Linked DNA regions of Homo sapiens: region 1 is linked to region 2. The links come from fine-mapping of genetic effects on gene expression. Tissue or cell type: whole blood. Region 2 holds a variant in brackets; the other region holds the start of a gene. All regions are shown on one strand. Distances are from middle to middle.

Region 1 (12,561 bases), 28 kb after region 2:
GGCTTGCTCCAAGCCCTGCATTTTCCCTACAACAATGGTTCCGTATTCACTAATTCAGTGTTCACAACTTTATGGAATACAAGTACCACAAAAACAAGACTGGGCACGGTGGCTCACACCTGTAATCCCAGCACTTTGGGAGGCTGAGACAGCAGTGGCGGTGGGGAGGGGGGTAGCGACGACACGAGATCCGGAGTTCAAGACCAGCCAGTTCGAGACCAGCCTGGCCAACATGGTGAAACCCCATCTCTACTAAAAATACAAAAATTAGCCAGGCATGGTGGCGCACGCCTGTAATCCCAGCTACTCGGGAGGCTGAGGCAGGAGACTGGCTTGAACCCGGGAGGCAGAGGTTGCAGTGAGCCGAGATCACGCCATTGCACTCCAGCCTGGGCGACAGCGTGAGACTCCGTCTCAGGAAAAAAAAAACAAAACAAAACACTTGACTGTATATTAAAATGGCTCATTTTCCTGCCCCCATCCTTGGGCATACTCCCCTTGACCACCCCAGTGGCTCACTCCACCTGTTCTTCTGCAAACAGAGGCTCCCCTGCAGGCATCTGCTCAGGTGTCCTCCAGCAGCGCCCCTCCAGTGTCTCTGTCACACTTCTTACTGTAGCTATTACCACCAGTAATTATTACCCCCGCTCTGCTACTCACCCCAACCAAAAACGTAAACTCCTGGAGGGCAAGGTCTTTGTCTTGTTCACCCACATAAATGCAGTGGCCAACAGTGTCTGACAAGCAGTTGGTGCCCAGCATGAAGGGTGAAATCCCACCTGGCTCCTTTGTGACAGAAAACACCTATTAAACCTATGCCTCCCAGTGCCAAATGTAGCTAACACTTGAAACGTGTCTAGTCTCAACTGAAATGTGCCCTAAGTGTAAAATATGCCAAAGATCTTAAAGACTTAGTACAAAAATATATGTAAAATATCAGTAATTTTTTAATAGCAAGTCCACGTTGAAATTGTACTGTCTTGGATATTCCGGGTTAAACAAAATATTTAAATTCATTTCAGCTGTTTCTTTTTCGTTTTTAATGCGTCTACTAGGGAGTTTTTAATTGCTTATGTAGCCTGTATTATATTTCTATGAGTCAGTCTTGGTTATAATACCGTGAAAAGGCCAGCCAGCAACCCAGCCCAGCCCTGGCCACCCCCCTCACACCCTCCAGTTCGCCTCTCACACGGTTCCAAATGCTCTCCAGAGCCAGGCAGGAAACACCTGTCTGGTGGCTTCCTGTGACACACAAATACCTAAGTGTATTCAGAAATGGGATTCAGAAGTAAGGGCTAAAAAGAGTTTAACAGATTAACCAATTTCACCCCAAGAAAGTAAGCACACTTGGGGCTGAGATGTGGGCCATCTTGTTCATTACCCAGAACAGTGGCCGGCACATAGTAGGCGAGCAACTAGAATCAATCAATGCTTTTAAAAAAAAAAAAAAAAGACTATTTCCAGGATGGGTATGGCAACTCATGCCTGTGATCCCAGCACTTTGGGAGGCCAAGGTGGGAGGATCACTTTGAGGCCTGGAGTTCAAGACCAGCCTGGTCAACAGAGCTAGATCCCATCTTTACAAAAAAGCTTAAAGATATGAAAAATTAGCCAGGTATGGTGGCATGCACCTGTAGTCTCAGCTACTGGGGAGGATGATGCAGGAGGGTTGCCTGAACCCAGGAGTTTGAGGTTGCAGTGAGCTGTGATTGCACCACTGCACTGGGATAATAGAATGCAGGAACTGGAGGAGATCTGGAAAATGCCTGGGAGTATAAGATGGGAGCCCTGCCTCTGAGGCGTCATAGTACCAGAAGATGCTGAGCCTCTGAGTCCTGATCTGGAAAGTAAATAGTCCCTACCCTCCTAGCTCTCCAGGCCAGAACATTCTATGATGACAGCAGTTTAATACAGTGGCAACTGGACTGTTTAATATAGTGGCAACTGGGCTCTTGAAACGTGGCTATTGTGACTGAGAAATGGAATTTTTAGTCTTACTTAATTTTAATTAAACTCATTAGCCAGGCATGGTGGTGCACACCTGTAATCCCAGCTACTCAGGAAGCTGAGGAATGAGAATCACTTGAGCCCAGGAGGTGGAAGTTGCAGTGAGCAGACATCACACCACTGCACCCCAGCCTGGGCGACAGAGTAAGACTCTGTCTCAAAAAAAAAAAAATTTTAATTAAATTCAAATAGCCATACGTTGCACATGGCTACCATATGGGACAGCATAGCTCTAGGCTGGTGTGACAGGATGGAATGAGCTAAAACGTGTAAAAAACACTCTGGAAATGCTAAAGCCCTATAGGAATGGTAAGAGTTTTGTTGTTTAATGCATTAGAAATCTGAGATCCTGAGAGGTTTCAGTTACCCCACATCACAGACAGACTCAATTCATAAGTGAAAGAAATGTAAACAAACACAGATTTTACTTTACTTGGGGAGAAGGACAGCCCATGCTCTTGTATACCTACGATGGAAATGGAGGTGGTTAGCGATAACCCTTCACGCAACTCAGAGCAACAGGCTTTTTCATCCACATTGCTGCATCCAGATTTGGTAACTCCAGGGCCTACGCACGCAGCAGAAATCAAGGCTGCCAGTGAATCCTGGTAGATTATATTCCTATCTCCCACACTCTCACTCTTAGGGACCATGTGCTTCTTGTCCCTTCCACTGACGTTTGCTATTTCTCCTGCTACAGAAACAGACTTTGCCAACAGCTCCCTGCATTGGGAAACTGCGCTGAGAGTCCCTTTGGGGTTCTGACAGTCAATTCACAGTCTCCTGAATACATATAGTGGTTGTTCAAATTTGCTGATGGGTGGTAAAAGCAACCACTACTGGAAAGGGGTGGGAACTAATCGGAGGCTGTGATGAATGCTAACTTGTTTACACTCCCATTGGAAAATGCACATGAAACCCAAATCAAGTTTTAGTCTCCCAAGATTTTTCCCAGCAGGAAAGGCCTTCCCAGTCTAAACAGCTTTTTGTTACCATTATAATTATATTCTATGCACTAGCAGACAATAAAGAAATGAGCAGGGAAGCAGAAGGAGGCGGGGGGTGAGTTATTAGGACAGGAAAGTCAAGAAATGGTCGAAGTCAGAGGAAACAACACAACACTCTCCAGGACAAATGGCAGGAACTGCCCTGAATATGTAAGAGATTTTGTGAGCTCATTCATTATTCTCCATTAAAGAGTTCGGCTAATTTTCCCCTGTCCTTTCAGTCACATTAAAACTTGGGGCTTAAGCGTTGTGTAACGCTCTGCACAGACTTGGTTTAGGCCCCATGGAGCTTCCATAATGAAAAACAACATGTGCAATTGGATCCACATGCGTTCCGCCCACAGGTTGAGCTCAGTGGTGTATTTTATTCTGTCAGGGAGCTGTTGCTCAACTCCCAAGGAGGGGGGTCCAGCAATAACACTCCAGCTATGAAGACAAAATTAACCAGCCTTGTGCCGGTGTGAGTGACATCACTTCACCAAGAACAGGAACTCAGCTCTCTGTACCTCAAGTTCAGTCTCCCGTCTGTTGATATCATCCGTGGACTGATTTAACTTCTCCAGTTCTCCCTGGTGAAGAAAAGAGGGAGAAAAAAAGACTTAAGGGATCCGTCTTTTGTTTCCAATATAACTCAGTCCATAACCTGAAAAATTACCCCAGCCCAATTTGCAGGAAAAGGGAAGAATCAGAATTAATTCTTACGGCAAACAGTTGAGGCTTGACTAGAAAAGCAAATGAATGTCGGCATTTCTGAAACCATTTTCTTGAGGGTGTCCCTTTTGACAATGTCTTCAGAGACATTTGGAATTTGTCAGAGGTCAACTATTCCAGGTACATGCCTTCAGGTAAACCCCACCTGTTACAAATGGTTTAATGGCCTAATCAAAACAGTACCATCTGCCTTGAGCAAGAACTTTGCTTAGAAAACAATAAAAGACAATAAGCAAGGCCAAGCCAAAAATATAAACCCAGTGAAATCATCAAGGGCAGAATTCTGGTATTAACTCACCAGAATTATTTTTCTGTAAAGGGTGAAAATCTTTTCACACTGCCAATTATTCAACCTACTTAGCTGGACGTTTTAAACTAGCTTTAATCCCATTCCTTTCAATAAACATTTACAAACTGACATTTTGTAAAAAAAGTATCCAACATGAACTTAACTCATCATTACTATGCAAACAAAGGATCTTGCTAACATAATCCCATACCAGTAACACACGATTTATTCCAAACCAATTACTTTAATTAATAGCATTCCTAATGCAAGGATTTTTTTTCCACCTGATCTTTATCTTGCTAAGCTGACAAAACAATTCATTTAAACCCCAACCACTGAGTTAAGTGAGCTTTTAAATTGATCTGTGCACTAAAAAACCAATTAGGTATCCAGAAATTACAGAGCATGCTTAAAAGCAATTTTTTTAAAAAAATGATTTATTGAAAAGGTAGAAAAAAAACGGGCCTTAGAAAGGGATTTGCTCTGCTTTTTGCTTAGGGGTGAAGAGGTGAAACTGTCACTCCTAGATCTCGGCTTGGAAATTGTTTTTTAATCATCTCTCTTGGAAATGGAGGCACAGCCAGCCAGCCCAATCCCCTCGCCGCCTCCACGCGTCAGCTTTGCGCATCAGTTGTCCCCGATTTCTTTTCATGCCCAACCTCACAACAAGGAAAAGCAGGGTTTTAAGCAATTTCAAGCCAGGCAGAACGTTGAGCCAGTGATGACAATAAGCCGCTCAGTTCGCTAACAATCAATCAGAGAAGGAAAACGGCTCAGGCCGGGCACCTTGGCAAGTGAGGACTCTGCACCCGGGGCACCGGTGCCAGCCCGCGCTGCAGGGCAACGCCCACCCGCCCACGGTGCCCGGCGCCCACGCGGGCGACACCTCCTCGCAGAGCCTGGACGCCGTGCCATGCCCGCGGTGCCGCGGCCGGGCAGGGGTACCCCCGAGGATACCATGGCGCCCCCGCCCCCTTTTTCCCTTTGTTGCACATCCACCCGAACCACCAGGCACGCTGCACCGACCCCGATCCTGCTACGGGTCGGCGGGGGACTCCCCGCAATAGAGTCAGGCCGCATCCACGCGGGCACTGTAGCCTCCTCATTGTGGAGACGATGAAACGGAGCATACAGACCGTCTCCTGCCACCCTATGTGGCCGCCAGTCCCCGGACCACAGTTACTGGGGGCTGCGAAGTGGCTGTACGCGTAGACACCGACCTCCGTAGCAGCCCTCGCGAAGCCCGGATGCGGGGCGACCCCGCGCGCCCTACCTGGATCCGGGGATCCACCTCTTCTTCCTCCTCCAGCCCCTGCTCCATCCCCTCTTCCTCCTCCTCCTCCTCGTCCCGGGCAGGCGGCAGGATTTCGGCTGGCTCCTCCGAGCGGCTCCGCTTCAGTGCCGCGTCCATGCAGGCAGCCGGCACGCGCGCCGCGCAGTGGGCTCCGGAGCGCCCCGGGGGTCGCGGCTGCCACAGGCTGGGCTGGAGCCGCCTCGCCACAGCCGGGCACGGTCGGGGAGCCGCCGGGGCCGACACCCGGGAGACGCAGCTCGCCGATGCGGATACCTCCGGCCGCGGCGGAGCAGAGGAAATGGGCGCGGCCGCCCCCTTTCTGCCGCGGCAGTCAGCGCAGCGCCCGCTCCGCCCCCGTCCCGCCCCGGCCTCGCGTTCCGCCGCCAGTCCCAGCTATCCAGGTCTCCGTCGCAAAACCCCAGCTCCCTCCACATCTCCAAGGTGGCAAAATAGGACAGCCCCCACCCCCTTGTAACTTAGCAGCTCGGATATATCTCAACTACGTAACGCAAGCCTCCCGCTTTCGGGAGTCCCCTCCTCCAGCCCTCCTCCGAGGCTCGTTGTTTGTGTGGTAGGGAGGCGTGGGTGTTTTCACACTGAAGTCGCCTTCTGAAGCCTACGCTCAGTGACCCTGGCCCTCAGGACCAAGACTTGCCGAAACCCTATACCCAAAGCACACTCATCCTCTTGAGCGAACCTTGGGAATGGCGGAGGTTCCGTGCACTGATGCATTGCCGAAGGCTGCGGCCTCTCTGGGCGAGCCCCATACCGAAACACAGAGGTGCGGCGGTCCTACCTGAATAGCCAGGAGCATGGAGAATGCATTGAGCTGGGATTTAAGGAGGTGGCAAGTGTAACCCCTGTTGATGGGCACACTCTGGCCAAGAATTTATGAATTAGTGAGACTTTCTGCCCACCATCAACAAGTAGGGAGACAGAGTTGGCCTGGCAGACACAGCATCCGAAAAGGCCAAACTGAAGAGGCACGTGTGTGTGCTTTTATGAAATGTCAGGGCCACTGTGATGTCAGGGGAACGCAAAGGATGACCTTGGCAAAGCAGATGAGCACATGGCTGCTCACGTCTCCTTGCCTTGAGAAATGCAGAACGTGCACATGTCCTACACGGAGGCCTGTAGCCCATCGGCTCTGAGTTTGGAGGACAAATTTGCTTGAGAAAGGAGCTTCTTTCTGAGAACCTATCATCAAAGCCACCTTACAAAACCTGGGTCTGGCACAACGTGGTGGCTCGTATCTGTAATCCCAGCTCTTTGAGATGCCAGGACACAAGGATCACTTGAGGCCAGGAGTTCAACACCAGCCTGGACAATACAGCCAGACCCCTTCTCAAATGAATAAATAGTCCTGCTCCTGGTGGTTTTATCAGAAACTAGGCTAGAGGGTTACTCCTTGGGCAAGGCACCACCCCATACACGCTGGCACTGTAGTCCACTGTCAAAGGAAATTTGTCCTGTCTCCTGGAGGTAGTGCCATGGTTTGTTTCTAAAAAGGTCAGACCTGTTCATTGCTCTTTAAATCAAGGATGAGTCAGCAATTCTGTGAGAGGTGCTTCAAAGCTCCTTGCTAAAGACATAGTTGCTTTTGGTTTTCCAATGATAGATGAAGCCAGGAACAAGATAGCCATAGGGGTCACTTTGGAACACAGGAGCCACCAACCTTCTCTGGTGGCTTGGAATTGAGCCTCCAACTTTGCAGGTACATCCTAGCTCTGAATGAACTGAGAGACAGAGTTTGAAATAAACAGAACTCTGGGGTCAGCCCTGACTATGATAAATGCTTCTCAGCTAGCAGAACCCTATCCTCTCCATTCTAAATGGCAAACTCCAAACTACATTCCTGCTTAAGCTTAGGTCAAGAGCAAAATACATCTATGAGACATAGGCCAACTGCTCAAGAACATCAGTTCAGACTTTTGTTGTCTTATTTTTTGGAGATCTGGGCCAGCTATAGTGTTAATCCTAATAGTCTTTCTAAAGATAAAATGAGAAAAATAAATAAACCACAGGCAGTACTATATACAGTCAACCCTCCATAGCCTCTCAGGTTCCACATGTGTAAATTCAACTAACCACAGATAGAAAATATTTGGGGGAAAAAAACACAACAATTAAAAAAATGCATATTTAAAAATACATGGCCAGGAGTGGTGGCTAACACCTGTAATCCTAGCATTTTGGGAGGCTGAGGCAAGGAGGATCACTGGAGGCCGGGAGTTCCAGACCAGCCTGGGCAACAAAGCGAGACTGCCTTGCTCTCTAGAAAAAAAAAAAATACAGTATATGACAACTATGTACATATTTGCATTGTATTAGGTATTGCAGGTAAGAAATCTAGAGCTGACTTAAAGTATACAGGAGGGGCTGCTCATGGTGGTTCATGCCTGTAATCTCAATACTTTGGAAAGCCAAGGTGGGTGGGTTGCTTGAGCTCAGGAGTTCAAGACCAGCCTGGACAACATGGTGAAACACCATCTCTACAAAAAATACAAAAAATTCGCCAAGTGTGGTGGCTCATGCCTGTAGTCACAGCTATTTGGGAGGCTGAGATGGGAAGATTGCTTAAGCCCAGGAGGTAGAGGTTGCAGTGAGCTGAGATTGCACCACTGCCCCCCAGCTTAGGTGACAGCAAGACCCTGTCTCAAAATAAATATATATATATAAATAATAAAGTATACAGGAGGGGCCAGATGTGGTGGCTCATGCCTGTAATCTCAGTCCTTTGGGAGGCCGAGGCAGGAGAGACGATCGCTTGAGGCCAGGCGTTTGAGACCAGCCTGGACAACAAAGCAAGACCTGGTCTCTAGGCCAGGCATGGTGGCTCACATCTGTAATCCTAGCACTTTGGGAGGCCGAGGCAGGTGGATCACCTGAGGTCAGGAGTTTGAGACCAGCCAGGACAACATGGTAAAAATACAAAAATTAGCTGGGCATGGTGGCACATGCCTGTAATCCCAGCTACTCGAGAGGCTGAGGCAGAAGAATCGCTTGAACCCAGGAGGCAGAGGTTGCAGTGAACCGAGATGATACCACTGCATTCCAGCCTGAACGACAGAGTAGGACTTTCTCTCAAAAAAAAAGAAAAAAGAAACACCTCATCTCTAATAAAAATTGTTTTAAATTAGCAAGGCATGGTAGCACATGCCTGTAGTTCCAGCTACTCTGGAGGCTGAGGTAGATCACTTGAGCCCAGGAAGTCAAAGCTGCAGTGACCCCGATCATGCCACTGTACTCCAGCCTGGGTGACAGAGGGAGACCCTATCTCAAAAAAAAAATGTTTTTAATGAAAAAATAAATTAAATAAAGTATACAGGAGGTTGTATGTAGGTTATATGTAAACACTGCCATTTTCTACAGGGGACATAAGCATCTCAGATTTTAGCATTGCAGGGGTCCAGAAACCAATCCCCCAGGGATATCAAGGGACAACTGTATATATTCCCTATTGGCACATATGTAGTGCACATAAATGCATAGCAAAAGGCCTGGAAGGATTTATACCCAGTAAAGAGTGGCTACCTCTGGGAAAAAGGGAGCAGGGCGTGGCCTAGGATTGTCTGGGATGGGGGCAGGGGATCAAAGGAATGTTAGTTTCTCAGTAATGTTTTTATTTTTCACAAGGAAGATATGTTTATGATTGTTTTGTGGAATTTAAAGATAAATTTAAAATAATGCATACTGGTCAGGTATGGTGGCTTATGCCTGTAATCCCAGCTACTCTGGAGGCTGAGGCAGGAGAATCACCTGGACCCAGGAGGCAGAGGTTGTAGTGAGCCGAGATGGCACCATTGCACTCCAGCGTGGGCGATAAGAGTGAAACTCCGTCTCAAAAAAAAGAAAGAAAGAAATGAGAAAGCGTACCACATATACTTTTGGGGGAAAAGCACTCCAGAGACTGCAGCAGCATGTGCAAAGGTCCTGAGGTGGGAATATGCCTTGGGTGTTGGCAAAAAAGCAAGGAGATCCATGTGGGTAGGACAGAGACAGCCAGGGAGAGAGGGAGGGAGATGAAATCAGAGGCAAGCATGTGGGTAGGCCACGGAGATGCTTTAGGTCATGGTAAGGAATTTGGATTTTGTTCTGAGTGAGTGCTCCTGTAATAACTCTGGCTAGTGTATGAGAAATTGACTCGGTGGACATTGAGGAGCTAGGGTCAGAGGAGACAAAGGAGATCCATTAGCCTGATGATCAGCCTCTTCTGATTGCTTCTGTTTTTTCAGCAAAGTAATGAGCCACATCATCAGCTGAGAATGAGGGGATGTGGGGCAGAGGGCAATGGAGGTTGGAGGAGAGAGGCTTTGTGAAAGAGCTTGCAGGGACAGTTGGTGACTGAGTTGACCATGGGAATATATTATAATCGCCAGGTTGCGCTAAGGACCCACCTATGGTTTGAGAGTCCCAGTGAACCCAGTCAGCAAGGACGAGTGGATTTTCCTATAGTATAGTCTCCAAATCATTCCCATCTTTCTAACCCTTGATTCAGGGCTTCATCATGGCTCCCTAGACTCTTTTACAGTCCCTCACCCTCTTATGTCCACACTTCCCATTTGATCTAGCTTAGATTCCATTGTCCATCATTAAAATCACCACACTACAGTCAACCACAACTCCCTCACGCTTCTCCCCGACCACTGTAAGCACTTGGCATAATCCCAACCCTGGTTCAATCCCACAGTCTTACTACTTTTTACCTGTACTTAGTAGCTAAGCTAAAGTGCTGGAATTATAGGCGTGAGCCACCACACTCAGCCAAAGAGTTGGGGTTTTTTTTAGTTTAGTTTTTTTTTTTTTTTTTTTTTTTGGGACAGAGTCGCGCTATGTCACCCAGGCTGGAGTGCGGTGGTGTTAGCTCACTGCAACCTCCGCCTCCTGGGTTCAAGCTATTCTCCTGCCTCAGCCTCCTGTGTAGCTGGGATTATAGGCGCCTGCCACCACACCCAGCTAATATTTATATTTTTAGTAGAGATGAAGTTTCACCATGTTGGCCAGGCTGGTCTTGAACTCCTGATCCACCCACCTCAGCCTCCCAAAGTGCTGGGATTACAGGCGAGAGCCACCGTGCCCGGCCAAGAGTTTTTATTTAATGTTTTTAAACTGAAGTTTGCAAGTGAAAGTGATCAACAACATTAATTCATTTGTATTTTTGTTCTGTTTTTTGTTTTTAGATCTAGATCTGCAGAAAGCAACATTAATTCAGTACACTTTTCAGCCCCTACTATATGCATACACTATTTCTGGGGCCAGTTTGAGGGTCCCAAACATGTAGATGACAAATTCCTAGTCCTTTACTTGGGGAGACAGGCCCTCATGAAACCTGGGCCCCAGGCCAGGTCTCACACCTGTAATCCCAGCACTTTGAGAGGCCAAGGGAGGAGGATCGCTTGAGGCCAGGAGTTCAAGACCAGCCTGGGCAACATAGTAAGAGCCTCCCCACATCTCTACCAAAAAAAAATTTTTAATTAGCGGAGTGTGGTGGTGTGTACCTATAGTCCTAACTACCCAGGAGGGTGAGGCAGGAGGATCCCCTGAGCCCAGGAGCTCGAGGCTGCAGTGAACTAAGGAAGTGCCATGGCACTATAGCCTGGGTGACAGAGTGAGACCCTGACTCAAAAAAAAAAAAAAAAAAAAAAAGTGCCCCAAAGCAGCAGCCAAGTCAATCCCTCATTGTGAAGTTAAGACCCTTTCTGTCAAATTTCAATGCCATTTAAATTAAGATTCCTTGCAATGCCAATTTTTTTTTTTAATGCTTTGTGAGCTAGGCGTGCTGGCCCACATCTGTAATCCCAGCACTTTGGGAGGCCAATGTGGGAGGACTGCTTGAAGCCAGGAGTTCAACACCAGCCTGGGCAACATAGCAAGACCCCATGTCTACCAAAAAATACAAAAACTAGCTAGGTGTGGTGGTGTGCACCTGTAGTCCTAACTACTCCAGAGGCTGAGATGGGAGGATTGCTTGCACCCAGGAGGTTGAGGCTGAAGTGAACCAAGACTACACTACTGCATTCCAGCCTGGACAACAGATAGGGACCCTGTTTCTAAATAAATACATTAAATTAAATTAAATGCTTCGTAACTACCTGTTAACTCCTAGAACAGAAACTGCTGTCTGGACTAAGAATGAATCTGCATTCACATCACACTCTGGTGTCAATATCGGAAGAAACTGATAACTAGCATCCCCTCTTTCTCCACCAGTGATATTTACGTGGCACTTTAGGTCAGAGGCTGCAAACTGGAAGCGACTGGTGGGATCAGGCCTGGGGTATGTGCTGCCTGGCTGACATAGCCTTTATAAATTTGAGCCAACAGTTAAAACTAACATGAAGGAGGCTTGCAGCAGTGTGGGGTGGGGAGGGACTCATGCATGGGTGCGCAGCCACCACACCCCACCCCCATCCCTTGCACTAGCAAGGTCCCCCGAAAAAAAAAAAACCTAAACATGAAAACAGTGACCTAATATGAAAATGCAGACATCTCTGATTGGCAAGAGTGTGGAGAAGATGTGAGGAGTGGCTGGCTGGCCCCTTTAGGATGGCATGTAGTCTCAAATTAACCTCAGAACCCTATTGGCAGACCACTTACACCTGGCAGGCCACACACAGGTAAATGTCTGACCTCTCCCCAGAGCCCTCATGGTAAGGTGTTGCAGGAAAGCTGGCTCGTAGGTCTTCCTGCCAAATCTCTCTTCTCTTCCCAGCGACCCCTAAGGATCATGGCACATAGCAAGGTGGAAGAGAATTTTAAGGTAGACCATAAACCCTTCAACAATATTTTTTAACCCCAAATGACTGGTTCTAAGAATTCAAGAGTCTATAGAAGCCAGTTCTTTGAAAGGGATCAGAGCCTCCACATTAAAGAGGCATCTGTTTAATTTAGCGATTCAGTGACATCAGTGTGTTGCCAAATTGTCTTCCAATGTGGCCACTCCCCTCTAAGGAGAACCTTTATTTGTGTCTAAATTGAATTAAACTTGTCTCTTGACCCAGATGAATTACAGGCCACAGCACCTAGAGAATCCAGGAAAGAGATTTTCAGTGTATATCTGTAGTCTTACAGGACCTACAGATATTTAGGATGGTGCTGGAATCCTGGAGATGGAAAAAGTGTTCTACTAAAAAGAAGAGCCCAGGTGCGGTGGCTCACACCTGTAATCCCAGCACTTTGGGAGGCTGAGGCAGGTGGATCACCTGAGGTCAGGAGTTTGAGACCAGCCTGACCAATATGGTAAAACCATCTCT
Region 2 (12,561 bases):
TAAAACGTGGTATATACATTCAGTGAAAGGAAATTCTGACACATGCTATAACATGGATGAATGTTGAGGACATTATGCTAAGTGAAATAAGCCAGTAACGAAATGACAAATATTGTATGATTCCTCAGTACTTATATGAGGTACCTAGGGTAGTCAAATTCATAGAAATAGAAAACAGAAGTGATGGTTGCCTGAGCTTGGGAGAGGGGAGGATTGGGGAGTTAGTGTTGAATGGGTACAGTTTCAGTCTGGGAAGATGCAAGGGTTCTAGAGATGGATGGTGGTAAGAGTTGCACAGCAAGTGAATGTGCATTCACAATGTGAATGCCTTAATGCCATCCTTAAAGAATGGTTAAAATGGGGGAGAGGCAAAAAAGAAAAAAAAGAATGGTAAAAATGGTACATTTTGTGTTGTATGTACCTTACCACAATTTTCTTAAAGAGGAGAAAAAGAAGGGTTGGGACTGATAGTGATAAAATGACAGGTCCAAAGCCACTGTTAGACCAGTCAGCACCCAGGGAGCCAGGTAAGCAAGATACACCCTGCTTTTCAGCGTCATTGATTCACATGGGCTCCGCCCTCATCAGACTGCTCCCCTACCATATGCTGAAGGCCAGATGGACTGGCAGATATGTCAAAGCAGCCTTAAAAACAAGCTTGGGCTCAAGGACAAAAACTCTCAAATCAAAGCCAGTGCCCTGCCCCCAACCTGGCACAGAAAACACACATCATGTTCTACCTCTGCTTGGCAGAAATTGGACTTGGTTTTCAAGATCACAGAACTGGATCTGACTCATTGGCTGAAAAATGAGCTCATATCAGGAAAAATAAAATCGATGCAAATTTTTAATGAACCAATACAATTTCCACCAGCTCAACAATTAGATTTTTTTTTTTTTTTTTTTTTTTTTTTTGAGTCAGGGTCTTGCTCTGTCACCCAGGCTGGAATACAAGAGAGACATCATGGCTCACTGCAGCCTTGAACTTCTGTGCTCAAGCAATCCTCCTGCTTCAGCCTCCTAAGGGCTAGGACCACAGGCACATATCACTACATCCAGCTAATTTTAAATTTTTTTTATTTCATATAGAGACAAGATCTCACCATGTTGCCCAGGCTGAAATTACAAATCTTTGTAAACTCTTCAAAGAAAATCAAGTGTGGGAGGTTTTTCCCTTTTAAGTACCCTCAACTGAGACACTGGATATTCCAGTGGATAGATAGACATGGATATTCCAGACACTGGAATAGACAGACATGGATATTCCAGACATAAAAAACCACCACTATGCTATCTTCTTTTTCTCCAAATGGCATACGTACTTTTATTTCAAAATATTCACAAAGTTAAGAAAAAGTACAGTACAAATAACTTTTTGCTCTCAACCATTTGAGTGAGTACCTGATGCTCCATCACCCCCCCAAATACTTTTTGTAGTTGTTATTTCCTACAAATAAGGACCTTCTCTCACATAATAATAATGTAACCATCAAAAGTGGAAAATGCATTGATACATGACTATCATGTAATTATCATTATTTCTTTTTTTTGAAAAAAATATGGGATATACATCAAATAGTAAGAGAAGGTACTAGGATTATTTTCTTCTGTCTATTTTCTAAATTTTCTACAATAAATTCTAATTTTTTAATGAAGCCGAAACCCAAGCTCATGCTGGGATTCCATTGTCAAACACATTATCTCACTTAAATCCTAAGGCCAACCTCATGAGATAGCCAGGGCTGTTCCCTTGACTGCCAGCATTTCATGAATGAGGATGCAGGGACTCTGGGGACGCAGTGCCTCCTGACTCAAACTAGAAGGAACTGCTATCTGAAGGAGTCTCTCAGGCACCATTTCCCTGCTGTACATAACCAGAGAGCTTTGTAAATATAAAAAGGAAGCGGGGGCGGGGGGACAAGAGGAAGAAAACAGGAAGTCCTACTTGGCAGCATCTGGAAGTGGACATCGCCCCCCTCACCATCAGGAAGGTGAGAGGAACATTCACACACAAACAAGCTCATCCATCTGGCCTGAGCAGCCCACCCTCCACAGAGATGAAATGTGACATCTGTGCCCTGCCTCAGCCTTTGAACATCCTTCCAGTTCCTTCGCTATTGACCAACAAGGTCCCTTGGGGTTGAGGGGTAGGAGTTAGATTAGGAATCTAACCTTTTCTACCCTGCTTCTTCCTGCCCACCTGCAAGAAGGAAGGAGATTACGGGGAGGGCTTGCAGGCATAAAGCCAGGCAGGATGCTCTCAACATTCATCTTGGGAGCTGCCCATTAAGAGTGACTCACTCATCCCCAGGACCTGGGCATCATCTGATTCGACCGATGACTCAGTGCCTTGCCCACAGGACTCAGTAATTGCCCTATTGTCCTCACTAGCCAAGAGAAGGGATGAAGAGATGGAGAGGAGCCACCATCCACTGCTTCCCAACAGACTAGGAGCCTCCCAGCCAGCTCCCTCCTACCTCTTTTCCCAACAAAGAAGATTTGGGGTGCAGAAGAGCAGGGAGTGGTGTGAAATCTGCTCCAGGATGTGTCACAGCCAGCTGGGGACCCAACTGCTAAACGGGATTTGAATGAACTCAACCCAGACGAGGCTGGATTTGCCAGTCATGCCACTCTCCATCTGCTTACCTAGCTACCAGGTGGGAAAGAGGCTGTGAGTAAAGGAGCAACGGAGAGGAAATGCTCATGACTTCAAGGGAGGGCAGGGGAGGAACCTCTGGTCTGTTGGTGGCTCCCCAACATCATTCACTAGTTTGTTCATTTATTGATTTATACAATATTTGAGCACCTTCTGTATGCTGGCATTGCAGATCCAGCAAGGAGCCAAACGAATGAAACTCTCTGCCCTTGCTGAGCTTCACTTACTGTAAACAAGTAAATTATAACAGGTCATATGGGGAGAAGCCCCACAGGGAAAAAGGAAAGCAAGGCATGGGGGCTGGGGCTGGCAGGGATGGTGGGCTGGGAGTTAACCATTTTAAATGTTAGCCTGAGAAGGCCTCATGGATAAAGGGATAGACATTTGAGCAGAAACCTGAAGATGAGGAAATCGGGCTATGAAAATACCAGGACATCGCCAAACAGAGGGACACCACCAAACAGAGGGAAAGGCAAGTCCAAAGACCTGAGGCAGGAGCACGTTTCACATCAGCACAGCCAAGGGAGTGACCTGAATCAGAGGACCAGCCTTGAGAAACCCCAACACAAAGCCCCCTAGAGCCATCTCTGCCCCCAAACCTGAGCTCAGGGACCAGACAAGGAAAACTTCAGGTAGAGAAGCCACTGCCGCGACTCCAGTGGGATGCTTCAACAGACCATCCTTCAATCACTCTGCAGCATGGGCACGTGGGCTGCTTTTAATAGATACGCGTGGGCTAAATGGCATCACAGAACCATAAATCCCAGTGTTAAAGACTTTCAGGAAAGGAGGTTTTCTGAATTCCTCGATATTTATCCAATGTTTAAATTAAATCCTCAGAAGCTTCTCCTCAAACCTAACCTGAACCCTCCATACTTCCGTTTCAGGTCAAGAATGATACAACCTTGGCCTACAGTGGGTAGGACACATCCTCAACTTGGGGGGCATCTCAAAGATTAATCCAACGTGGACACTTTGGAGGGGGAATGCCTCAGGGTGCTGGAATCTGTGGGAATTGGAAAGTGCTTTTTGGAGAAGGGTTTCTTCTCCCGGGAATTCTAGAGGCCTGGGCAGGGCCCAGCTGGAGATGGAAAAAGGGAGTGGCTGCTGCTCAGGGCTTGTGCAGACCAACGAGCAATCAGAACTTTGAAGTATACAGCCCAATGCACCAGGCCAGGGAAGAAAGAAGGGTTTCAGGCAGCCACTCTGTCTAGGAATAAAGGCAACATATCTGGCAAGGTCCAACCAGGAACTTCAGCTCAGGGTTCAGAGCATAAAACCCAAACACACAGGTACGATCTTGGTAGAACTCCCAAAGCAGCAAGGGGCTCCCTTGAAGAGAAATGAGAGGTGCATGGAAATAGGAAAAAGAAGAGGAATGGTTAAGTCCTGGCCCTCATTCTCTATGGGTCTATCTTAATATATTCCTAGATTTCTGGGACTTAATTTCCAAAGGGTCCATCCTACTGATATCTCCCCCACAGTGCACAACACACTGTGCACATACACAGTAGGTGCTCAGAAACTTTGCATTGTTGTTGCTCTCTCATTTTTTCTTTCTTTTTTTTTTTTCTGAGACACATTTGTGCTCTGTCGCCCAGGCTGGAGTGCAGTGGCACGATCTCGGCTCACTGCAACCTCCACCTCCCAGGTTCAAGCGATTCTCATGCCTCTGCCTCCCTAGTGACTGGGATTACAGGCGCCCACCACCATACCCGGCTAATTTTTGTATGTTTAGAAGAGAGGGGTTTCAACATGTTGGCCAGGCTGGTCTCGAACTCCTGACCTCAAGTGATCTGCCCACCAAGTGATCGGCCTCCCAGAGTGCTGGGATTACAGGTGTGAGCCACCATGCCCAGCCTCACTAAACATCTTCTTACAAGTGGACACTTTTGAAGGCAGCATCTTCCATCATGTCATAAACACACCACAGGGACAGCACTGGGTCATTTGCTAGTGAACTACAATTTGGACCAACTGCTTAGATCTTCTTGGGAAATCTGAACTCTCATCTCAAGAGGCATCACAGGGTTGGTGATTCACATTAGCTCTCTAATCGGGAAGCCGAAGCAGGCTGAGGAAGGTGAATAAAGCCCCCAGCCCAGAGCCTGCCACACAGCAGGTACTAGTAACTGTTGAGGGCTCTTTACCTTCCCCATTCACAGGGCCTGGCTATCAGAGGCTGCAGGTGACACAAGTGGCACATCGCGTCACACAGCAGCCAAAGGAAGACCAACTCCTAAACCAGAACCCATTTCCACGCAGCCCCCAGCAATCGCCTGATCACAGTCCCCTCCGCCACTCCCCTTCTGGTCTCCGTTTCACTGCTTCTTATTTGGGCTCTCAGGACAAAGAACCAAAGTTTCAGCAGGACGATGGCCACGGAAGTCAGAATCCGCTAAGGAGTGTATAACAACTCACCTGCCAAATCTTAAAAAGGAAAAAAAAAAAAAGAAAAAGAAGAAGAACCGATGTTTCAAGAGAAGCAGAAGGCTAAACACTCCCAAGAGTGAGGCGAACGCGAGGCAGTAAGCGAATCTTCCTACTGCTGTCTGACAGGTTGTCATTAGGAGCGGAGGAGGAACACCCTCTGGACACGTCCCCTTAAGTGCACTCAGCACCAACTCAGGGAGAGCACCCACTTGCAGGGTCATCCAAATGCCAGCACTCACACCCTATTAATAGTGTCGAGCACTGGAATGAAGCAGATTGCGGGGCGGTGGGTCACTGCATTTAAGACATATTGGACTCGAGCTTCTAACCTTCAGCAGGTGATACAGTCAAAGGCACCCTTAAAACTGAGGGGTAGTGAGGCTCGAGGTAGGGGAGACATCTATGGGGCTATCTTACCTGCCTCGCCACCCTCCGTGCCTCCCAGTAGGGCTTGGAGTCTTCCACAGCTTTGCCAATTTTCTTCACCAGTTCATCCAGTTTCACCGTTGCTTCAACCAGAACAGAGCGGAACTTCTGACGAGCATCCTGCAGCCAGGGGAAACCGAGGAAACACAGTTGAGGCTTAAGAAGGGATCTGCAAACACCTACTGGACCTAGACAGAAACATCAACAAAGGACTTTACCCAACGTACAGACCCCTAAAGTAGCACCTTTACAAGACAGTGTCTAGAGCAGCACCGCCCAAAACAGCTTCCTGCCACGGCGGAAACGTCCTGTGCTCTGCACAGTGCAGTGTGGCGGCCACCAGCCACGTGTGGCTACTGAGCACTTAAAACTGGCCGGTGTGACTGAGGAAAGGAGTTTTTAGTTTATTTAATTTTAATCA[T/G]CTCGGGTGTGGTAGCTCACGCCTGTAATCCCAGCACTTTGGGAGGCCGAGGCAGGCCCATCACTTGAGGTCAGGAGTTGGAGACCAGCCTGGCCAACATGGCAAAACCCCATCTCTACTAAAAATACAAAAATTAGCCAGGCGTGGTAGCAGGTACCTGCTGTCCCAGCCACTCAGGAGGCTGGGGCACAAGAATCTCTTGAACCCAGGAGACAGAGCTTGTGGTGAGCCAAGATCATGCCACTGCACTCCAGCCTGGGTGACAGAGCACGACTCTGTCTCAAAAAAAAAAAAAAAAAAAGCTTAGTAAGCAACAACAACGCAAAGTTTCTGAGCACCTACTGTGTATGTGCACAACATGCTGTGCACTGTGGGGGAGATATCGGTAGGATGGACCCTTTGGAAATTAAGCCCGTCTCTACTAAAAATACAAAAATTAGCCGGGCATAGTGGGGGACACCTGTAATCCCAGCTACTCAGGAGGCTGAGGCAGGACAATCATTTGAATCAGGAGGCAGAGGTTGCAGTGAGCCGAGATCGTGCCACTGCACTGCAGCCTGGGTGACAGAGTGAGACACTGTCTCAAAAAAAAAAAAAATTAATTCATTATATTTAAAATTTTTTAATTAACATGGCTAGCAACTACTATATTGCATAGCACGGTATAGATTAAAAAGCTTTGTCCAGGACCTCTGGACAGCATGTTGTCAAAGCTCAGGACTTTAATCAGAGACATAGATTCAACACTGACCAAACCTCTATCTGGGGAAGAATGTCCAGCCATCTCTGACAGCTTCAGTCCAAATGATGCTGTCAATGTTAAACACTGAGTGCAAATTTATTTATTTATTTACCACATGCCAGACCTGGTGCTGGGCCTTGGGCGTGGCCCTGTCTCCAGGGCACTTACAGCCTGGTGGGTGAGGTAGGTATTACAGCCCGTTCCAGAAAAGTCAGTGCCAGGGTGGGAATGGTCCAGTCGCCATGGAACTCAGCAGGGAAGAATGGCGCCAGACCATGTATTAGAGGGAGAGTCACAGGAAACTTCCAGAGGAGTACTATCTAAACAGAAGTCCAAAGCATGAATAGGAAATTGGGGGAGGGGAGGAAAATACTGAGTCCCAAGCAGGCAGCAGAGCCTGTGTCCAGATAAGAGGGGAATGGGAACAGCATGGTGTCTGCAAGAAACTGAAGGAGGCCGGAGGTCTGGAATGTGGAGAATGGCAAGAGATAAGGGTGGCCATCCATCCTGGCGACAGCAACTAGCAACTTGGACCTTGATAGGAGTTAGGAAGGCAAAGAAGGACTGTGCAAGGCTTAATCATGTTGTAAAAGTCAAGAAACCAGATCCAAGAGGTATAAGGAGAGAAAAAAAAAATTAAATAAGTTAGTCCCAGGTCTAGGAGGACCTATTGGAAGGGATCAGGTCAGTGATTCAAACCCCACATCCCCTCTACCTCTCCCTCAGGCATCTGCCTGACAAAGCCACACCTAGGGGAAGGAAGGACACATGCATGAGTTTAAAAAAAAAAGAGAAATGGCAGCCGGGCACCATGGCTCATGCCTGTAATCCCAGCACTTTGGGAGGCCGAGACGGGTGGATCATGAGGTCAGGAGATCGAGACCATCCTGGCTAACAAGGTGAAACCCCATCTCTACTAAAAATACAAAAAAAAATTAGCCAGGTATGGTGGTGGGCACCTGTAGTCCCAGCTACTTGGGAGGCTGAGGCAGGAGAATGGCGTGAACCCGGGAGGCGGAGCTTGCAGTGAGCTAAGATCGCGCCACTGCACTCCAGCCTGGGAGACAGAGCGAGACTCCGTCTCAAACAAACAAACAAAAAACTAGCTGGGCATGGTGCCGTGTGCCTATGGCCAGGGCGGAAAGATCGCTTAAGCCCAGAAGGTTGAGGCCGCAGTGAGCCAAGATCACACCACTGCACTCCAGCCTGGACGACAGACCCTGCCCTGTCTCAAAACAAAAACAAAAGAAAAGAAAAGAAAAGAAAGGGGAAGTGGATACTCCAAAAGAACAACACATGATCATGAGCTATGGGCCTGGAGACTCAACACCCACCTGCTGGTAAAACATGTGTTTCATTGGCTAGAGGGGCCTGCCTCACAAGTAACTATCAGAAAAATTTTATGTTATTTTGAGACAGAGTCTCACTCTGTCACCCAGGCTGGAGTGCAGTGGCATGACCTCAGCTCACTGTAACCTCTGCCTCCCGGGTTCAAGCAATTCTCGTCCCTCAGCCTCCCAAGTAGCAGGAACTACAGGTGTGCACCACCACGCCAAGCTAATTTTTTTTTCGTATTTTCAGTAGAGATGGGGTTTCGCATGTTGTCCAGCCTGGTCTCAAACTCCTGGCCTCAAGTAATCTACCCGCCTAGGCCTCCCAAAGCGCTGGGATTACAGGTGTGAGCCACGGCACCCAGCCGACATTTTATTTCTAAACATGCAATTGCAGGGGTTTCATGGGGGCAAAGGAGGCTCTGATCAGTTCTAATTCATTCCATCATCCCAAGCTGTTGGCTTGCTAGTGGGTTTGAAAACGCCGCCGGCATTCCAAAATATGAGGATAAAAGCTTTACCTCCCATGGGAGCACCTCAGCTCCCGAGCCTGGATCCCATGTCCAACACAGGCTTTGCCCCCTTTCCCCTGGTTCTGTGCCATCATCATCATCCTGATTTCCTCTGCCTTCTCCCTTATCAGACCAGGCTTAGGGTCATCCGCTGCAGCTTCTACAGGCAGAAGACAAGACTAGACTTGTTCTCCAGGGGAAGGGCCCAAGGAATAGAGAAGCCCCACAGAGCTTCTACAGGACTTGGCTTCCAATAAGAGGGAAGCAGCATGCTGTCAAAGCCCAGGATTTTAATCAGAAACACAGATTCACTGCTGACTAAAGCTCTTTCTGCAAGGCCCTAATCAGGGCCGTCTCTATGAACCATTTGTATTACCTATAAAATTGTTACTTTCCATCCCATAGGGAGGGCTCTTAGAAGGAATCAAGGAGAATACAAATGTAAAACATTTAACAATTTCTGGGCACACAGTCAGTGCTCAATAAATGCATACAATTTTTTTCCTCCTGGTATAAAAAGAGACCCTGAGACCCTATTAAAAACCACCCAGGGAGTTTCCCAGAGGCGAGGGCAGCTGACACGGTGGACATAATAACCTGTTCCACTGTGCAGGCAGCCGCTCTGCAAGATGCACTCGCATGCATGACCGCATCCTCACGGTCACCTCCCTGGTGGTGGCCAGTGCCAGTGCTGTCCACATTCACACCAGTGAGAAAACGGAGGGCCAGATCGGTTAGCGTGTGGCCTACAGCCGGTCACATCAACCCCCAGGCCTACTCTGTTAAATGAGAATTGAGCCCCAAAGCAGTGGCCTACGGGCCAATAAGCTTAGTACATTTGGCTGATATGCTGTGTAGTAAACGTCAGGGAAAATTCACATTTAAAAAAAAAATGAATTCTCAAACTTTTCATTTAAAGAAAAAAAATAGCTAGAAGCAGAGCAGAAGGTGCCCCCTTAGGCAGGGGTTACCCTCCTCTCCAGTCCCTATCACTCTGGTGTCTGAATCACTCATTCAGGTTCCCTGCCCAGCCGCTAAAGATATCTGATTTGCTGAGAGCTCTCTGGGGCACTGGTGAATACAACCCACCAACGCTGCCTTTGTGGAGAAAGAAGGATGGATACAGGGCACAGACTGACTGACTGCTATGTGGCAGGCACTACTGTCAGTGCTTTAACCCCACCAATTTGTGCAATCGCTAACAATCCTAACAGGTAGGTGCTATTGTTGTTATTCACATTTTATAAAGGAGGAAATAGAGGCAAGGAAAAGAAAGGTAACTTGCCCATGGTCACAGAGCTGGGAAATGGCAGAGTGAACAATTAAACTCAAGCAGTGCTAAGACTACTTACACACGTTGAGCAACAGACACACGGCTGAGAAGGCCACCCAACCCAAGTCAGACATGAAGAAAGAGGATTCCACCAGACAGAGAAGGGGGACATTCGACCCTCCAGCACGGACGGACGGGCTGGCCTGGTAGGGGCTGGAGCAAGGACGCCTCCTGGCCATTATAAAGGCATCTGAACTCAATCCCATGAACAATGGGAGGGCATGGCACAGTGGGGAGAAGGGGAGATTACTTCTTGTTTCTTTCTTTGCAGAAGATTTTCTGGTGCTAGTTCATCACTGAAATTCTGTCTCCCTCTGCTATTCTCTACTTGCCATTTCTCTTCCTTTGGCCATAAATCACATCTCAAAATCAAACCTTTTAACCTAGTTCTATGTGATGGGTTTTCTTCCCATAGGGTTACTTAAGTCTCAAGTAATTTATTTCCAATGCACCCTTTGTCAGAAATAATTAAAGAATGCATTCTACCACAAAAAGGAAACATAATCATAGTTTACTAGATGGCTCAACTGTGAATAGCACTTACCTAGCTGCAATAAAGTAATCAAATACTGACCACAATGGATTCTGCTGAGAAGACAGCAGATGGGAAAAGTACAGGACAGAGGGTGAAAAGAGACAAAACCTCATCTTCCATAGCAGGATGTCCACAGATAGTCACTCAAATGAAAAAAATCAAGAAGTAGTCACACAATACATACTACTTGGTCATAGAAATAAATACCTCCATCAGCTAAAATACATTAAACTAATATAGTTAACTGGCTAGGGGAGAAAAAAACAGGGGTAGGGTGGGAGAATGGGATAGTATAGGGCTTTTTGTTTGATTTTGTGTTTTTGTTTTTGGGGGTTTTTTGGGTTTTTGTTTTCACTTGATCTTAGCCAAAAGGCCGAGAATCGATGGGGTTTTTGTCTTCTTAAGAGACAGAGTCTTGCTATGATGCCCAGGCTGGAGTATGGTGGCTATTCACAGGCATGATCATATCACACTGTGGCCTCAAACTCCTGGGCTCAAGGGATCCTCCTGCCCTTTCCAAGTAGCTGGGACTACAGGTGTACAACACCATGCCTGCTTTTTTGTTTTCAACTGTAAAATATCATAGATTTTTCTAAGCAGGGGCATGACCTGATCAAATTTAGGTTTTACAAAATTGTTACCTGGGTGCAGAGTATGTTAAAAGACTCCTCAGGTGATTCTGATGGGCAGGTTCAGGGCCTGCCAGTCTGACTTGATGCCCTTTTTGTGACTATCTGTACTAAGTGTGTGACCATCAAAGGGTATTAAACCCAGAAGACTTGATTTGACATCAGCGTTTCCTTCTATAAATGAGGCTGTGCTGCCAGGAATGATGCATGACTGGCTGACTTCCAACCACCAACAAGCCTATTCATCAAAGATGCATTGAAACTGAACACAAAGCCAGTCTTCCCCGCTCCACCCCCCCCCCATAAGAAAAAGCCCACCCAGTTGTTTCCATTCCACTGAGGATCACAGCTACTTGGGTAACAGTTCCCAGAAGTATTGAGGTATGAGAGGCCACAAACCAAAATCTTTCCTGTCTCCCCAGTGTTACAGCCGTAATATTCCTTGGTCCTCACCCCCACCTCTCAGTCCCTAGTGATGTGACAGGGCCTGGCCACAGTCATACTCCTAGCCACAGTGATTGTTCGATGAGCAGGGGCGATAGACATGACCCATCATAACCAATGAGACTTCATTTCGGGACCTTTCTGCAACTGTTAGAGGAAATTTCTTCCACTTGAGATGTTTAAGAGGATGGAATGAAAGCCTGCAGCAGATAGCAGCCATCCTGGCATCATGAGGGGAGAGCCTAACAATAAAGCCATGTGTATAAGGAGCAGAGTCTGTGGAATTTAGTTCAACCTAGCTTTTATAAAGCATTTCTTTCAATACATCTTAAAACCACCTTGCCACAATTGAACTTAGACTTTCTGTCTTGTTTCTTAAAGAAAAGACTTGACTGTGATCCTTTGTCTCCTGCAATTACAAGCAAATGTGTTTTCCAAGATCAGAGTGGGGGTGGCTTCAGGAATGTCCAGGGAGGAGAGTAAGCTGACTGCTTTCCCTGCAGAAAATGAGCCATGGAGGGGAGTGGCTCAAAAGTACAAACTTATCTGAGAGAGCAAGCAGATCTTCCACCAGTCAAGAAAAAGAATCCGTTTACCATCCCAGGGCTGTTTACCAAGGGAGTTTTTAGATCAGCACTTGAAAGAGTTCTTAAACAGTTCCCTCTGCTTGGAGGAGGCCTCAGCTCTTCAAATGTGAAAATTGTGTTTCATCCATTAGGTGACTCAGACTGAAGGTAATTTATTCAAGCAAAGAATTGCTGGGGGTGGTAGAGTCTCCCTGTTTGACTGTGTCAGTGTGTCAGACAAACAGCCTTGTGTCAGATAAGAGCTCAAGCTAAACCACACCAGCCAGCACCAGTATACAGTGGAAGCAGCATGCAGGTTGAACATGAAGCACACAGGATGAGTCAGTGTTTTCTGGCCAATCGCTCACCTGCTCACCTCAATTACCTTGCCTGGAAACTGAGAATCCTGGCTTTTCCTCTTCACAGGTGTCCCCAGAATTAAGTGAGATAAAGATGGGATGGTGATGTTTTAAAAATAACTGTCCTACATGTTAGAGACGACACCAAACTTCAAAAGATCCTTACTAATGCCA

Evidence for each region.
Region 1: SH3BP5 starts here. The variant in region 2 is fine-mapped to the expression of SH3BP5 in whole blood (INTERVAL, PIP above 0.99).

What each region holds. Positions count from the first base shown.
Region 1 is chr3:15,326,984-15,339,544 of GRCh38, forward strand. SH3BP5 (SH3 domain binding protein 5) reads right to left here and starts at 5,603. Exons shown (of 9, transcript NM_004844.5): 1 at 5,288-5,603; 2 at 3,521-3,583. The coding sequence starts at 5,425. RefSeq lists an enhancer at 1,088-1,277 and silencers at 5,172-5,231, 5,312-5,711, 11,627-11,676.
Region 2 is chr3:15,298,597-15,311,157 of GRCh38, forward strand. It overlaps SH3BP5 (SH3 domain binding protein 5), which reads right to left. Exons shown (of 9, transcript NM_004844.5): 3 at 5,507-5,635. Among named protein-coding and RNA genes, the nearest start is that of SH3BP5, 28 kb to the right of the region's middle. The variant T/G (reference allele first, on the strand shown) is at 5,937.